3 linked regions of the Homo sapiens genome follow. The protein of the gene in region 1 interacts with the protein of each later gene in a pairwise test. Each region holds a gene or a part of one and is shown in the gene's direction. Other genes may lie near its edges. The genes, in order: QKI, PRPF39 and CALD1.

What was found.
Region 2: the proteins of QKI (region 1) and PRPF39 interact in a two-hybrid assay, tested with the Homo sapiens proteins (one large-scale study listed by BioGRID).
Region 3: the proteins of QKI (region 1) and CALD1 interact in a two-hybrid assay, tested with the Homo sapiens proteins (one large-scale study listed by BioGRID).

The regions. Positions count from the first base shown.
Region 1 is NC_000006.12:163,575,119-163,578,776, forward strand, and holds the end of QKI (KH domain-containing RNA-binding protein QKI), read left to right. Parts: 3' UTR 1-3,474; downstream 3,475-3,658. UniProt on the Homo sapiens protein: RNA reader protein, which recognizes and binds specific RNAs, thereby regulating RNA metabolic processes, such as pre-mRNA splicing, circular RNA (circRNA) formation, mRNA export, mRNA stability and/or translation.
Region 2 is NC_000014.9:45,104,529-45,108,186, forward strand, and holds part of PRPF39 (pre-mRNA-processing factor 39), read left to right. Parts: intron 1-2,922; coding exon 2,923-3,088; intron 3,089-3,658. UniProt on the Homo sapiens protein: Involved in pre-mRNA splicing.
Region 3 is NC_000007.14:134,943,626-134,947,283, forward strand, and holds part of CALD1 (caldesmon), read left to right. Parts: intron 1-3,658. UniProt on the Homo sapiens protein: Actin- and myosin-binding protein implicated in the regulation of actomyosin interactions in smooth muscle and nonmuscle cells (could act as a bridge between myosin and actin filaments).

The DNA.
Region 1 (3,658 bases):
CTATTTGTAAAAGTTTCCGTTGCCATAACAGTTCATGTAGTAGTCTGTGAAAATTCGAAGCTGTCTGTCAAGCTGCTAATATACAAGTTGTCATGGTACCATGTAACTTAAATTGATGAATTTCTATGCAATTTACTATTCTCTGAAGCCTATGAATGCAGCCTCATCTCATTTTCAGTTAAGGGTACTTTATGTATAATTATGTCATTGCTGCCTTTTATGTAGGAAATGTAAAAAAGTTTTAAAAGGCGAAAATAACATTACAGATTTCATTTTTATACAGGTTACAATATTAAACATGAAACTACCAAATTCCAAGAATAGTAAAATTCTAGAGTCAGTTGATTGATTGAAACTATTTGACAAAACAGTTGAAAGCTGAGCTTTCAGTCAAGAAGTTGGTGAAATTAATGTCCTTAAACTTTTCCTTTAGGCAAAATGTCAGGGAAAACTTAACATGAAAGTAGTTACTCCCATACGCACCAGTGCAGTAGCTCCAGGTGTAAGAGGTCACGAAGGCACCCTGCCCATAAAACCAGGATGTGCATACGTACACACAATCGGTGTCTGGTTATGGTTTTCTAAACACTACATAAGGATCTGAATTTTTTAGTGTGCCAAAAGCAAACGATAGGTTTAAATGAAATTGCTCACTACCAAATCAAGACTCTTCATATATATACGTGTGTGTATATATATATGTCATAACACTTTCACGTGTGACAGCCTAAGGTTTCTTTAGTTTTAGGATGGGGTGGGGTGGGAGTGGTTTTGCATGTTTGACCAGGATGTGATGCCTGTCTTTATTCCTTGATAAGAAGTAGCTGTTACAGCATTTCAAGCAAATTATTTTAGGTAGAATAGAACTTACTGCCAAATGATTATTTATTTAGCAAAAATTATTCTCCAACTTTTCGAATTCACAATTTTTCTAAGTGCATAGAGTAGTTTTTTACATTGTCACGAATTCCTTAATACCTTTATTTAAAATGGAAAAAATATGGACAATATTTTAGAAATATGTGCTACACATCTAATTTTATCTGTAGTTTAAGTGATCTAAATTGAGATGCCTTTGATATGAAGAGATTTACCAACATTATATGCACTCGTGCCTTCAATGTGGAATCAAACTGGTTAACCTCAGCACAGTCCTCTCGTTTCTGTGTTTCTGCTGCACTAATTGCCAGGGGGTGGGGGAGAAGGCGAATGAATTAATTCATAGTAGAAGGAGGCGATAGGTGCAGCAAAGGGCAGCCACAGTGTTGATTCCACATTATAATGTTGTTGCCTCTTCTTGGCAAAAGACACCACATTGTGGGAAGATCTCAGCTTCCAGGGTAAAAGTTAATTTATAACTTAAAAGTGCTATTAAGTTTTTATTACCAAATATATCTTTTATGGTTTATATTGTAGTGGTATGTATGAAACATTTAAAATTTTACTGTGGAAATTGTGTATATATATATATATAGTCGAAATAGGTGTTCACAGGTCACATGTGAACGGAGAACTGCATGACCGTACATGAAATGCAATAAACCAACTGGAAAAAGTGCATGTGCTTCATCCTCTCAAGCCAACTGCAGCTGGAAAGTGCTGCTTATCCTCCACCCCCAGAAAATGCATGTATCAATATGAGAATAAAGAACGCACACTTTCAATTTTATTGAGGCTTTCAACACTATTTAAAAGAAAATGTAAGAATTTGACATTCTGGAGTTATTATAACATTAGAAAATGAGCATAACATTCACTCTGATTTTAGCCATTAAGGGAGATTAGTAAACAGACTGCTACAGTGTTCCATAGTTGGACTGTGCATCCAAAACATTTTTTTATCTTTAATAAATGGTACAGTTTTTATGTAGTTTTCGAATGTAAGAAGAAAGGAATGCTGACCAAAACTTGATTTCATCAGCTTCATGAAAAGGACTAGTGTCATTAACCTGTTGAACAGAATTGGTTTATTAAAAAAATCATTTCCAGTAGTGTGAAACCTTTACGAGTCTTTAACATCTAAATGTTATGACTCCTTGTACCTTAAGTTTTCCAGTCTTTCTTATTTATATCATCTCCAAGTACCTCTGGCTCCTTTCCTCTTGCTCACCGGAACCTTAGTTTTCCTCAACAGAATGCTTTGTTAAAGTAGCCCACAGTTGCAGGATCCATAGCACCGTCGTGCAGACTAGCAGCCCAAAGGTGTGTTTGGTTTGGCTTATACGGTGTTTTGCTTTTTAAACTACTTGCCATAATTTAAAAGTGGCAACACTAGACTTAAAAAAAAAAAAGTCTGATTGCCCATATTAGATTTTTTTTTTAATTCTTCACAAAATCTGCTCTTCCTGAAAGATCAAAGTGTCTAGAAAGCCCAAACATGTATTCTTAACATAGTAGGCACCAGCTGAAACTGAGTAATTAAACGGTCCCCTGAAGCCAAGTATTCCCTGGTTAGTCGCCACCCCACCACTCCTTCCTGTCTCTAGTGTCACACTTGGGCTGTTGATTTTCTTACTCTTCTCTTGCTTTAATCCTTCCCCCCGGCTCTCTGGCTCCTGTGGATATCTGTGCTTGTTTCCTGGTCCAGGATGGTGATCTGACTTTCAAACCAGCTTCTCAAAAGGGGTGACATAAAATCAGTTTTGATGTTTTTCCTCCTGAAAAATCAGATGAATATTTTAGTCACTGTTACTCATGCACATTGTGTTCTTATGTTTACAGAAGTGCTTAAGTGAATGGAAGCACTAGACATTTGGATTTCCTTCCTAACGTAATTTTTAATGATTACCCCTTTTATACAGTAATTTGTGGTCTTTAGAAAGCAGTTAAACTAATTGACCATCTAATAGTTGTACTATACATATGTCTAAAATAATAGTCATGGTAAGTTTGGCATCATATCTTCCCCAAAAAATGTTTATTAAAATTAGATTATTCCAGTTTAATGCTATTTTGTGAACTGTATACCCTCTGAAAGCGCTTATTTTTACATGCTACACAACAGTTCCAATTTTAAGGAGTGTCTCCTAAAATTGGGATGAAAATCTACTGTAGTCTGTTTTAAAGTATGCTATACTATGTTCATTGGTTACTTAACTGGATATTAATATAAAGGTTATTACAAGAAAAATGATGAAGAGCAAAAGGAGAAGAAAATATTTGCAAGTGAATCCACAATTCTTGCAGAACTATTTGAGTTGATACTAAAGATTTTATGTTCACTCCTTTACCTTAGAACTGTCAAGCTTGGGAATGAGGAAAGTGCCTTGGCTGTGCTTGAAACCTGAATTTTAGTGCTTCCCTTATTACATTCATTGTTTTCAATGATTGATTTATAAAATTAAGACATACTGGTAGTACAAGTTGAAAGTTGGTTTGAATACATTTTAATTAAATGATAATATGTTAATATGCTTTTGTTCATTGCTTTCTCACTGAGGTAAAACAGCATTAAAAAGTTGTCCAGAATTTAAACTGACTCTAGATTTCTAGATTCCTAGGTGGCGGGAAAATGTAAAACTTTAAAGCTCATGAGCGGAACGCAATGCAAGTCCTGAAACTAAGAGTTAAATGTGAGTCTCAGGGAAAAAAGCTAGATTAGCAAATCAAACATACATATGCCTCATCCAGAACATCATTCAGGCATCAGTTCGGGGGC
Region 2 (3,658 bases), on another chromosome or scaffold:
CCCAAAGAAGCCATGTGTAAATAGCGTTGCCTGTGAGTTGGTCAGAAGGATAGAGGAGGAGGCGTGTGTTAAAAAAGATATTCTAAGTGGTATACAGTAATAATGGAAATATTTTTATTGTGCTTGTGCATTAGGCTTGTACCATTGGATGTACCCTGCACATTATCTCTGAGATAATGTCTAATTTAAATCCTTCTTTAGCATGAGGACTTTGTGATCTGGTCTAACATCCAGGTCCAATCCCTGGTGGTTCCTGAGCTCTAGACACACCTAAGTCTGATAACTTCCCAAAGGGCAGTGTTGTTTTATATCTTTATGACTGTAATACCTTTTCCTCTTTCCACTTGTCTAGTGGACTTATATTCCCTGAGACCACACAGTTTTGTGTCTTCTCTGTGAAATTTTCTCTGGTTCTCCTATACTGAGATACCTAGTCTGTTATTTGTGCCATGACTTTACCTACATTTATTTACATTTATATTAGCACCAGTAACACTGCTTTGAATTTATGTCTCTTATATCCTCAACATGCCTGTCAGTTTCTGAGGCTTAATTCTTTGTATCTCTAATATTTAGGAATAGAGCTCAATATATATTAGGCAGTCAGCCAGTCTTTACTGAATAAATGTTAGCTTTATAATACAAAAAACTGCTGAAAAAATACTGCTTAATATTATGCACATTTTGTCACTGTTTTAAAGAAGTTGTTACATGATGTAGCAATAAGTCATTTTAGATTTATGTACTGTATGTAGTTATTTTGAAATTTTACCTTAAGTTTTTAATTCATTTGTTGACCATTCTGAGTTTTAATATTCATCTGTAATTAAATCTGTTTTTTCATACTACATATTTGAGAGTTACTTCCTTATTTTTAATTTTTTAACATAAGGCAATCTTTGTTAATTTTTTTCCACCTGGTGCTGAAATGGGCCGTTAGCCTCTGTATCCATTGACTTTGCAAAATTTAAATTAGATTCCAATGTTATTTATATACTTTTTTTTTTTTTTTTTTTGAGGTGAAATCTCGCTCTGTTGCCCAGGCTGGATTGCAGTGGTGCAGTCTTGGCTCACTGCAGCCTCCACCTCCCAGGTTCAAGTGATTCTCCTGCCTCAGCCTCCCGAGTAGCTGGGATTACAGGTGCCCGCCCCGACACGGAGCTAATTTTTGTATTTTTGGTACAGATGGGTTTCAGCGTGTTTGCCAGGCTGGTCTCAAACTCCTGACCTCAGGTGATCCGCCCACCTCAGCCTCCCAAAGTGCTGGGATTACAGGCGTCAGCAGGCGCCTGACCTGTTTGCTTACTTTTTAGTAACATTTCTGATAGTAGTATAGAGGTGGGAATGGGAGTTGTGAGACTAGAGGCTGCAAGGTCATTTTATGTTTATCCAGCTTAAAAGTCCCGAGGTGATGAACATGTATTTAAAAGGTACAGTCAGTAGGACCTGGTATCTAATGTAAATGAAAAGCTAGGTGGAAGAGATTGAGAGATGTAGTGGTTGACAGTACCATTAATCAATATTAGAAATGCTGAGGGTGGCGGGGCACGGTGGCTCACACCTGTAATCCCAGCACTTTGGGAGGCTGAGGCGGGTGGATCACCTGAGGTCAGGAGTTCGAGACCAGGCTGCCAACAAGGTGAAACCCCGTCTCTACTAAAATTAGAAAAATTAGCTGGGCGTGGTGGTGCGCACCTGTAATCCCAGCTACTTGGGAGGCTGAGGCAGGAGAATTGCTTGAACCCGGGAGGTGGAGCTTGCAGTGAGCCAAGATAGAACGATTGCACTCTAGCCTGGGCAACAGAGCAGGACTCCATCTCACACAAGAAAATAAAGAAAGAAATACTGAGGGTATTCATTTTCAGATGAAGATGCCATACTTATTTTAAAATATTTCATATTTGAGGTTCCAAAGGTATATTCAAATTGTGATAGTGTAGATATTTTAGCTCCTCAACCTGGTATTTTTGATTACAATTTGTATGTATACAAATTATTGCATGTTTTTATAAAATAGTGAAATGATATTTTTTTCAAAAATCTTTTTATAGATTAGCTTAAAACTAATCCACATTTCTTTGTGCAGAGTATTGGCAGTTGTATATGCTAATGTGATTAGGAGAAAGGTTTGGACTTGTGTTGTAGTTTTGAGAGTCATCATGGTATACTTATTTCAAGCTGTATGAATGAGATTGGCCAGAAGTATGTATTAATAAAAATAGATGAGAACCAAATGGAGAGTGGAATACTTGGGTATAGTAGCATTTAGGGCAGGTAAGAAGGGGAATAAGACATAGAGCAGCAGTCAGAGGCTTGGAGGACCATACTACAAAACAAGTGTCCATTTAATTTTATATATGAGGTAATTGATAATCTTAATTGGGCAGTTTCATTGGATTTTTGCGTACTCACATGTGGATGAGGAGTATTTGGGAGGTGGGAAGGAAATGCTATATTTGTTGGTTATTTACAAGTGATCATTTAGAATTTAAATATGGATTACAGTATTTAATTTTACTGTAACTTTTATGTCTTTGTAGTAAAATAGATTCTATGACACACGAATAGGTATTATCATCTTATTTTACAATTGAGGAAACTAAGATTTAGAGAAAAGAAAACCTTCCCTAGTCAGATAACCAGTAACAGACAGAACTGAGGTTTGAATTTATGCCCGTCCATGCCTTCTCCATTCCACTGTAAAGGTAGGAAGAAATTGAAGATGTCTATAGACTGTTTTATCATATGGTAGTGTTTTATCATATATGGTAGGATTTTACTATAGAAAAGAAGGAGAAAAGGTATGATATTTTGGTTTCTTTTTTAAATCAAATCCTTTGAAAGAGTAGTATATAGTAGGAATCTCAATATGAGATCTAAAATTATGATTCAAATACATATATTTTTATTGTCTTCCTTTAGATTTAAAGAACATGTACAGAATAATTTGCCTAGAGATCTTTTAACTGGTGAACAGTTTATTCAGTTGCGAAGGGAATTAGCTTCTGTAAATGGTCATAGTGGTGATGATGGTCCTCCTGGTGATGATCTACCATCGGGAATTGAAGACATAACCGATCCTGCAAAGGTAACCAGTCTTATTCTAAAGTTCGTCAGTGGCCAGGTATGGTGGCTTATGCCTGTAATCGCAGCACTTTGGGAGGCCAAGGTAGGCGGGTCACCTGAGGTCCGGAGTTTGAGACCCATGTAGGCAACATGGTGAAACCCTGTCTATACTAAACATACAAAAATTAGCCAGGTGTGGTGGCACATGACTGTAGTCCCATCTACTTGGGAGGCTGAGGTGGGAAGATTGCTTGAACCTGGAAGGCGGAGGTTGCAGTGAGCTAAGATGGCACCACTGCACTCCAGCCTGGGCCAAAGAGCAAGACTCCATCTCGGGGGGAAAAAAAGGTCTTTAGTGCAGAAGAAACTGGACCTGTTATCCCTTGACTCCATGAGTGGCACAGTGATCACTTATATAACTGGCCATTTACCCAGTGACTTGTAGCTTGTTTGAAGTTAATTTCTGATTAAGGCAAGTGGGGATTCAGTAGCTTGTATGTATAGATTTAAGGTAGAGAATCTATTTTACTACAAGACACCCCAAAAAAAACTTAGCTTAGAAGGAATATTTTGCCTAGGTTGTGTATCTACT
Region 3 (3,658 bases), on another chromosome or scaffold:
CGATTATAGAAAAAAATACTCATTATAAAAACGCTCAGAAAATAGAAGAATAAAAATAAGCACCCACCACCCAAAGATAACTAGCAGTAACACTTTTTCCAGATATTTATCTATGTATATAATATTCAAGATAAATGCACACACGTGTGTATATTTATATGTAGTATATACGTGTGTGAGTATACTTATAATTTTACATTGATTCTTGCACTGTGCATAAGAATGTGTCATAGCTTGCTTTCTATGCCAATAAATATAAGCCTATAATTAATGATATTAGATTCTACTGGATGGATGTATTAGGACTTATTTAGCCAGTCCCTAATGACGGACATTTTGATTGTCCAAAATGAAGACTGAGTGACACCTAGTGGAATCCATAGATGTTTCTATAGGCATGTGTTTTGCCGGTCCAGTTCCTGTACAGTAATATGATGAACACAAAGAGAGAGCAAACTCATTTTTGGAAGGAAAGACCCTAAATTGACTGAGAGAGGAGTCACAGGCCTGTGAACCTAGAAGACCCTGAAAGAGCCTTTGACAGCAAGGTTTTGAGGGACCCTTTAACCTTGTTTGAGTTCAAAATAAAAGTTTACCTGTAACTGGCATGAGCCTAGACCAATAGTTCTAAATTTTTTAACCTAAGCCCTTAGTAAGAAATAAATTTTACATAATGACCCAGTACACACCTGTATATATTTTTATAACTGAAACAAGTGTGTCAAGAAATGGTACTTTGTTTTGCTCTATGCAGTGCACTCTGATATTTTCTGTTTTTTTTTTTTTTAAATGTTGATTACAATCTACTAAATTGATTTTCTGGTCTGCAGCTTGAAAATTATTGTTCTGGAGGACACAGGATATTCAGAACTACTTCAGTGTTTAAAAAGCATGATATATAATATACATATATATATTATAAAATCAATATTGCACAGTGTATTTCTTGAGCCCATTTCTTGTTTTATTCTTCCTCTTGTTTCACAGCTAGAAACACTGTACCATTCTTTACATGTAGTAAATGATGTTAGGGTGTGATAATTCCTTTGTTCCTTAGACAAAAGTGTCAGGAATAGGATATCTACGTTGACATCTAGTTAAGAATGACCTTACTACTTGCTAATAAGTATTTAAATGGCAAAGCTGTATCTCTGTCTCTTAAAGACTACTTATAACAAGGGCTTCAAGCCTAAATTAAGCCACTAAATTCTGCTTAGTGAAGTCCCAGGCAAATCCAACTTAGGTGAACTCTGTGTTAGTGAAAACTCTGCATTCTACTGAAGTTCTACTTTGAGTATCGACATGTTTTAAAATTATCAGTGTTCTAACTGTATCATACAGTAAATTTATTAAAGAAACTCAGGGGTCACAGTAGGTGCTAATGATATGTCTTCATCTTTTTATAGTTGTGTAAAATACTAAAAATACCAGTTCCAAAATAAAATTTTACCATAAGGACTCTTGGGATAGCATTCTGTCTGAAGTCTTAATATGTTCCCAATTCTGCAATGAAATCCCTGTGTATCCTCCTTAATCACAAAAGAAAATTCAACATAATTTCAATTTTAGTTCTTACTTACATAAAAACGTACCCATTTCTTCCTGTTTTATAAGCTGTTCTACCTGATGAAGCTTCTGCTTCATCTCAGGCACGGAAGGTAGCTAGACCTAGACTGTAGAAACTCTAGAGACAGAGGTAGGAAACGCTTCTCTCAGACTCTATCCTGAAGGTTTGAGGTAAGAGGTGGAGAGATGGAATAACATGTTCTATTTCAGTTTATTCATTGTTTCATAACAAAACGTATTTAATTTCAGGTATAATTATAGTTACAAGAAGAGTACAACTAATAGATAAGCATTAGAATCTGATCATGGCTCGACTGCTTTCTAGCTTCCAAAAGTTTGAGTATATTATTCTCTGTCTTACCTGTGGTTTCCTTGTTTGTAAGATGGGGATAATAAACCTAACCTGACATCTTCCCAGTTATTGTGACTGTTAAATGAAGTAGTGGATATGAAAAGGGTTTAGAGAGCATAAAGAATGACATGTAAGTAATAACCTTAACCACATCATACCAAGCTAATTTCATAATTTTAAGTCTGTATAAGGAGTATTCCAGTTGTATTGGGGTCAAAGAGCATAGAAAATTCACAAATTGAAGCCATAGGTTAATGCAGTCATTAAGGACTTTCCTGGAGCAGCTCTGTAAGAATAGACATAAATCACTGTGTTTAGCTCTTAATCAAGAGGCAATGGGTAATTTCGTCTGCCAGAGATCAGCTGCTAGAGTCAAGCTCAAGGCACAGTTGTGGACAGATGGATTTACTTCAATGCCTACCCTTAGTTACAGCCACTTTTTCCCATTCCCAGCGCCTGAACCTTTCTGTCTTCCCTCCTGATCCATTACTCCAGGCAGACCCAAGTTAACCAGTAACTTACGGGAAAGGACTAGTAAGGCCACTACAAGACTTTTGAACTCATTCACAAGTAACCTTTTGGACTACATGCCTCCCTTTCTAATAACAACTAATATTTATACTGTAGATGATATAGAAATTATAGTATATCAGTATGATATCAGTATGATATCATACTGATATAATACATAAGCCCATGCAACCCACTGAGGTAAATAGAATAAATAGTATTTACCCATTTTTCCATGTTGTAGCATGTATCTTCTTAAAAATTGTGGTAAAAACAAACATCACCTAAAATTTACCATCTTAAGCATTTTTAAAAGTACAGTTAAGTAGTGTGAGGCATATTCATATTGTTGTGCAACAGATCTCCAAAACTCTTTTCATCTTGCAAGACTGAAAGACTACACCCATTAAACAGCAACTCTTTATTTCCTGCTACCGCCCACCCTCTGCCTCTGGTAACTACAGTTCTATTTCTGTCTCTATGAATTTGACTACTTTAGATCCCTCATATAAGTGGAATCACACAATATTTGTATGATTTCCGTGATTGGCTTATTTCACTTAGCATAGTATCTTCAAGGTTTATCCATGTTGTAACAGGTAACAAGATCTCCTTCCTTTTTTTTTTTTTTCTCTTTTTTTCTTACAGACAGAGTCTCGCTTTGTTGCCCAGGCTGGAGTGCAGTGGCACAATCTCGGCTCACTGCAACCCCTGCCTCCTGGGCTCAAGCAATTCTCCTGCCTCAGCCTCCAGAGTAGCTGGGACCACAGGCACACGCCGCCACGCCCGGCTAATTTTTTTTTTTTTGTATTTTAGTAGAGACAGGGTTTCACTGTGTTGCCCAGGCTGTCTTAAACTCCTGAGCTCAGGCAATCCGCCCGCCTCGGCCTCCCAAAGTGCTAGGATTACAGGCGTGAGCCACTGCACCCGGCCTCTCCTTCCTTTTTAAGGCTGAATAATATTCCATGGTATGGCTAGACCACCTTTTATTTATCCATTCCTGCTATGATGGACACTTGGGTTGCGTCCATCTCTTGGTCCTTGTAAATAATGCTGCTATGAACACGGGTATACAAATGTCTCTTCAAGACCTTGCTTTCCATTCTTTTAGAAGTGTATCAGAAGTGGGATTGCTGGATCACGTGGTAGTTCTCTTGTTGATTTTTTGAGGAACCTCCATACTGTTTCCATAGCAGCTGCACAACTTTACAATCCCATTTTACAGTGCAT